Homo sapiens: one gene and its partner. The protein of the gene in region 2 interacts with the protein of the main gene of each other region in a pairwise test. Each region holds a gene or a part of one and is shown on either strand. Other genes may lie near its edges.

What was found. The genes of interacting proteins can lie anywhere in the genome.
Region 1: the proteins of ZBTB49 (region 2) and PECAM1 interact in binary tests that used the Homo sapiens proteins (3 or more experiments, as listed by UniProt).

What each region holds. Positions count from the first base shown.
Region 1 is NC_000017.11:64,380,861-64,384,360, reverse strand, and holds part of PECAM1 (platelet endothelial cell adhesion molecule precursor), read left to right. Parts: intron 1-3,500. UniProt on the Homo sapiens protein: Cell adhesion molecule which is required for leukocyte transendothelial migration (TEM) under most inflammatory conditions.
Region 2 is NC_000004.12:4,303,751-4,307,250, forward strand, and holds part of ZBTB49 (zinc finger and BTB domain-containing protein 49), read left to right. Parts: intron 1-2,387; coding exon 2,388-2,434; intron 2,435-3,500. UniProt on the Homo sapiens protein: Transcription factor. Inhibits cell proliferation by activating either CDKN1A/p21 transcription or RB1 transcription.

The DNA.
Region 1 (3,500 bases), on a different chromosome or scaffold from region 2:
GGTGGTGGTTGTGGCGGTAAAAACTAGGTCACTGTTTTTGTTGTTTTGTCGATGATATTTGTGTTAAGATGAAGAGCTGAGACTCATATCTCAACAGAGTTTATAAAATGCTTTTCTTTTTTCCATCCTGCCCTCTCTTCTCCCTTGTCTGTTCGAGCTAGCCATGGGAATGTGGTGTTCCTGCCAGTGCATCCATTGAGTTCGTTTATTGTTAATTTATTTATTTTCTGAGATGGAGTTTTTGCTCTATTGCTCAGGCTGGAGTGCAATGATGTGATCTTGGCTCACTGCAACCTCTACCTCCTGGATTCAAGTGATTCTCCTGCCTCAGCCTCCTGAGTAGCTGGGATGACAAGTGCCCGCTACCATGCCCGGCTAATTTTTGTATTTTTAGTAAAGGCTAGGTTTCACCATGTTGGCCAGCGGGTCTCGAACTCTTGACCTCAGGTGATCCACCGACCTAGGCCTCCCAAAGAGCTGGGATTACAGGTGTGAGCCGCCACACCCTGCCGAGTTTGTTTATTTGAGCAGATAATGTGTGTTAGAGTTGCTTAGAAAAACAAGATGGTGGACGGGCCCCATGCTAGTGGGTACCATCCCTACTGGAAAAACCACTGCTTGGTGCATTAGCCAAATTTGCTTTAAAATTGTTTTTTAAAAAGGGAGGGCTTTTATAAAAATCAAATGAACTAGGACTGGTTAGTGGGAGGCTCACGCAAGGGTTGTGCTGAGGCTGGAAGGCCCAGAGTAGGAAGAGTTGTGGAGTGCAGAATGAGCTCTCCAAGGGCAGACACTGCCAGCCTCACTGTTCTCTGAACCCCCAGTATGGGGGACAGTGCTTGGCACAGAAAAACCCCCTTAAATGTTTGCTATGAATGGTGCTAAGGAAGAAGGCAGAGAATGTCAACCAGAGGCCAGGCACTGGGCAATATATACACGGCCCCTTCTGTGCCCTCAGCCACTTTGGCGCAGTCACTGTTTAGGTTAAAGATACCAGAGAAGGCAGGTATTCATGTTCCTACTTCGTAGGCAGAGACGTGGTGGCCCAGAGAGGTTAAATAACTCCCGAGATCACCCAGCTAAGCACTGTGGGATCACGGGTTTGAATCTGGTATGTCTGACTCCCTTCTGTACCCAGCACTGTCTGCTGGTCTAGGGCATAACCAGCCAGGGATGGGCAGCTCGTTCAGTAAACAGGAGAGCAGATGAATGACTCGTGTGGAGAGCACGCAGTGGAGTGAGCAAAACTGGGAGGCTGGAGAAGTCGCTTTAAATTAACCTGAAAATGTTTAATATGCTTTTTATTTTGTTTATTTTTTTTGAGATGGAGTCTATCTTTGTTGCCCAGGCTGGAGTGCAGTGGTGCAATCTCGGCTCACTGCAATATCCACCTCCCAGGTTCAAGTGATTCTTCTGCCTCAGCCTCCCGAGTAGATGGGATTACAGGCAACTGCCACCACGCCTGGCTAGTTTTTGTATCTTTAATAGAGATGGGGTTTCACCATGTTAGCCAGGAGGCTGGTCTCGAACTCCTGACCTCAAGTGATCTGCCCAGCTCAGCCTCCCAAAGTTCTGGGATTACAGGCATGAGCCACCACGCCCAGCCTTAAATATGGTTTTTATTTGAAAAAAAAAAAAATCCCTAGAAACATGTAGTGGAGACACAGCTTTAAAGCTCTGAATAGTTGATTTTCAGCTCATGCCTGTAATCCCAGCACTTGGGGAGGCTGAGGCGGGATGATTGCTTGAGGCCAGGCGTTTAAGAATAGCCTGGACAACATAGTAAGACCCCATCTCTAAAAAATTAAAATTAAAAAATAAAAAAAGAGTCGACTTTATTTCTGTAACTGGAAGAATCTAGCTAACATTTCTCAAGCACTTTATAGGTGCCAGGAACTCTACTTTAAGTAATTAAACTCAGGTTCTCATTTATACTTACATTCCTTGTGCCTATTGTATGGATAAGCAAACTGAGGCTCAGAGAAATTTAGGGACTTGCCAAAGGTCACACAGCTTTGTTAGTAGCAGAGATGAGATTTGGCCCAGGTCTGGCTCCGTGCACTTGATTTCTGCTCTTTAGTATCTCCTGGTTGAGTCACTGGAATACACAGCATAGCTTAAAATGAAGGAGGAAGTACTGAAGAGGTAATGGAAGGAGACCTAACTGTCTCTGAGAGGGAAGAGAGTGGTTGGGAGGGAACTATATTAATTGAGGAGTGCAGAGAAATTAATATGGTCCAAAGGAAAAAAAGGTTTTTTTGAGATGGAGTTTTGCTCTTATTTCCCAGGCTGGAGTGCAATGGCATGACCTTGGCTCACTGCAACCTCTGCCTCCCAGGTTCAAGCAGTTCTCCTGCCTCAGTCTCCCAAGTAGCTGGGATTACAGGCGCCCACCACCACACCCGGCTAATTTTGTATTTTTAGTAGAGATGAGGTTTCACCATGTTGGCCAGGCTGGTCTTGAACTCCTGACCTCAAGTGATCCACCCGCCTCGGCCTCCCAAAGTGCTGGGATTACAGGCATAAACCACCGTGCCCGGCTGGTCCAAAGAAAGTTGTGTGTCGAGAGCTCATCCAGCAGGCTTCTTAAATCAGGAGCTTGTAAGTTGCATATAAAGACAAAAAAGGGAGTTCCAAAGAGTAATGCTGTGGGAAATGACTTGAATTTAAACCGTCACCTTGTTTCATCTCATGGACTGGTCAGACACCATTTTTGTTGTCGTTGTTGTTGTTAAATTAATTGCTCAGAATATAGCAGCAGGCGCAAATTGTAGTACTCGTTTTAAAATTGAAGATTAAATTTTAAATTACCCAACAAAGGCCTAACTTTGTTAAAAGAGAGGGAAAGGACAGGTTCTGCCAGTATCTCTGGCCAGCTAGCTAACTAACTTTTTTCTTATTCCAAAAAAATGACTTGGGACCACTTATAAAAATTATGTATTGTTCAATGAGATACAATTAATGAGGAAATCAGGATGAGAGAAAAATAAAGGCAGGGAAATAAAGCTATGGCCCATTTAGCACAAACGCATCCCAAAGATTGCTAGAAGCAGAGGTGAAATTTTTGCTGTGTGTTAACAATCAAAGCAAAAAGAGGAACAAGGTCCATTAGAACATTCTCAGAATCCACAAGATAGAAATGAATCAGTTGTTCAGCATAAACACAGTGTTTCCTGGTGCTGTTGGAACACTTTGTGAAATTAGGGACAATATCTCATCAACATCCCAGACCAACATCCCAAAAGACCATTTAATAGCTTGCATCTGTGCTTCTCCCTACCCCATAGCCCCTCCCTCCAGAGATGACCACTATGCTGACTTGTAAAATATTAATCTTATATCCAGCCACCTTTCTTTTTCGTTTGTTTGTTTGTGTTTTTGCAGACAGAGTCTTATTCTGTCGCCCAGTGCAGTGTTGTGATCTCAACTTACTGCAACCTGTGCCTCCCAGGTTCAAGTGATTCCCCTGCCTCAGCCTCCCAAGTAGCTGGGATTACAGG
Region 2 (3,500 bases):
TCTCTCTCTCTGTGTGTGTGTCTCTCTCTCTCTCTATATATATATCTCCACACACACACATTATGTTATACAATACATATATATTACTTTTCTTCCTATAATTAAACATGAGTTTAATAGCACATTACAGATGAACAACAATTACCTTATAGGCATGAGAAGTAACATGCAACAGGATGCTTCCACAGCAGCTGCTTTTACGGTGTTTGTGTAATTGTGTTTGTTGATGTGACCTTCTGTTATCACTATGGATTCACAGTTTGCATTTTACGACCTTGTATTATTGGGAGATTTCTTTGATAATTGTGAAGGCCCTTTATACATTTTAGTGCATTTGAATATAAAGTACTGTTATTATCACTAGTAGTTCAAAATTATTCCACGTGAAGGCAATATCACAGACTTAGTTTTGCCCTGAAAAAACTTTAGATGATTCTGTTTGCCTAAATCTCCTACAGCCTAATGATTACTGCAATTTTTTTTTTTTTTTTTTGAGACAGAGTTTCGCTCTGTTGCCCAGACTGGAGTGCAGTGGCACAATCTCGGCTCACTGCAACCTCTGCCTCCTGGGTTCAATTGATTCTCCTGCCTGAGCCTCCCGAGTAGCTGGGACTACAGGCATGCGCCACCAATTTTTTTGTATTTTTAGTAGAGACAGGGTTTCACCATGTTGGTCAGGCTCATCTTGAACTCCTAACCTCAAGTGATCTGCCCACCTCGGCCTCCCAAAGTGCTGGGATTACAGGCATGAGCCACAACGCTTGGCCCGATGGCTGTAATTTTTTATTGTGAAACTTACCTGCTTAGCTTTTAAAGGAATCAAAAATTGTTTATTCTGGGAGAACCTCTTTGAATGACAGATACAGTCATGGCAAAGATGCTTACTGGCACATAAATATTCTACCGAGAAGGGCAGCAATTCTCAAAGTATGGTCTGGGGAACCCTTTTTGGGGGTCTGTGAGGCCAACACTATTTTCAAAATTGTCTAAGATGTTAGTTGTTTTTTCCTCCTCTTATGAGTGTACAGTTAGTCTGCCCAAAGCTACATGATGTGTGATGAAGTCCTCACCCTGGTGGCCTGTGAAGTGTGTATTTACCTGTTCTAAAGGTCACTCTGTTTTCATTTCCAGTATGGTAGATATCAATAGCTATAGCCCATATTAACAAAAGCTCTTTAGGACCTCAATTTTAAGGTGAAGGGGTCCTGAGGCCAAAAAGTCTGAGGCCTACTGGAGTAGGATTGTTAACCTTGGTCATTTATTAGTCTTAGTAACTGGTGACCTCTCTCTCTTTTCAAATTCTTATATTTCTTATGGGGGCTTTAACTTATTATCTGTCACCCCCAATAATTTCAGACATAAATGTAGTTTCATTTATTGCAATACAGAATTAATGTAATTATTAATTTATTATTAATATAAATATAATTATTCAGGGTCAAGGAAGCCATTAGACATTTTCAGGATAAAATAAAATTAAAATATCCTAGAATGAGCCCAGAAAGCTAGCAAGCTGCTTTCTTCAAGGTAGCAAGCCCCAACGATATAGTAGGAAGGGAAAACATTATTGTTACTTTTTAAAGAAGATCTTAATGAAACCATTTGATTTCAGGGAAATGGAGAAAATGAGAGGTTCTTAGTGTTCAAAGTCTATTCATTAGCGTTATATAGATTAAAGGCAGTACCATGGAGTGTGCTTTTAAATTCAGATCATGTTCTGTAGGCCACATTTCAGAACAGCTGTGGTTTTTTTGTAGTAGAGTACCATTCTTAGAATCTGTTCTGTCCCCAAGCGCAGTTACTTAGTTATTGAAATTAGAGGTGATAAAGAAGTCCGCAGAGGAGCACATCTCCCAAAATGAAATCTTACTTTCTCTCGTGAGAACCAAGGCAGGAAGACTGTGGTGAGGGGCTCTTTCCTTTTCACACTCATGCTTCAGGACGACCCACTGTGTTTGGGGCTCTCTGTGCTCATACCTTGTGTGGTGTGAACCAGTGACCCTGTGTCTGTTAGGATTGGTGGTTGGGTGGCATCAGGCTGAAGAATAGGTGAGCGGGATCGTGCTGTTCAGCAGGAAAACTCAACCACAGGAAAAGACCACTTCCAGAACGTGGGTCTGCTCTGGATGCAAATAAATACATTGATTTTAACATAAGTTTTGTTTGGAGAACAGTTTAAGTTTTTAGAGGAAAATATTACTTTTATCATCTCTGTGTAGAAATAAAGGCAAGAGAGAAATATAAGGAAGTAGACACTCCCTATTTTCATACTGTTAGGATGCAGAATGTAATGCCATTTTGAAAGTACATAGGAGGTCATTTAAACAAAAAATTATTGAACAAATACTAGTAATGATTTTACAAGTTGTTGTTTTGTTTTGTTTTAGGTGAGAAACCTTTTGAATGTAACATTTGTGGGAAACATTTCTCTCAGGTGGGAATACTCTTATTTATTGTTAATAATTGGAAACCTGCAACACAGTGTTTTTTTATTGGAAATAAGACATACTTTTGTACTTGTGAGAGAAGCCTCTAATGATGTCTGTAACTTAAAGACTTCAGAATAAATTAGGATAAATCGTTTTCAAGAAAACAGATTTCTAGTTCTTTGAGAGAAAAATAGCATTTTCATGTGTGAATTCTTACAATACTTTTTTCGCCTTGCTAAGGATGAGTCCAAACTTAGCATATGTCTTCCGTTTCATGAATGAAGTTCACAGTGAACCACCTTGAGCTTGGCGTACCTGGAGGCTGCACATTGTGCTGGGTTAGGCTGAAGACAACTAGGTCTCCTCATTCTTGTTGGGACTGTAGATTGTAGGATGTTGGAAAAAAAGATGAAACAAGTTTTGTTCCCTGTGTTGACTGCTACCTTTAGCTGACCTCCATTAAGGTCATTTGGACACATAGGCATTCAGTCCTTGAGGAAACGTTTGTTTTACCCTCCCATGGGCCAGGTGCTGTGCTGGGCATGGGACACAAAGAAACCTAGAGACCTAATGTTTTCTAGAAAATGGCTTGTGGGAACCTATTCTTTCTGAAACAGAAGGTAACTATTCACCGCCATGTGCAGTGCCCTGGGCTTCCAGAGGTAGATCAGATGGAAGCTGCTCCAGGGCGTGAGGGCGCAGCTCTTCAGGGCACAGTCACTGGCACGACTGTCTCACACAGCATGGTAGATCCTGTGGCAGCAGTGCATGCCTCTGGAGCTGGGAGGCAGGCCCCGCAGAGCTTGGAAATGGCAAGCGCCGTGTTTGCTCGCATTCCCCCTAGAGCAGACTCTTCCAGTTTCTCTTCATCTGTTGAGGGTGTCAGTTCCATTTGCTCACACACCCAAACCTGCCATCTTAATGACTCTTCACCCTCCCACTCTCTGAGTCCCTGCCTGCTGGGATTCACCAAGTCCTCGCCGTCTCTCATCGCGTACTCGGTCGGGTCATGTCCTCCTGAGCACTTCATTTCTCTGGGCCTGGGGCCATGTCTTCTCTCCCATCCAGGAG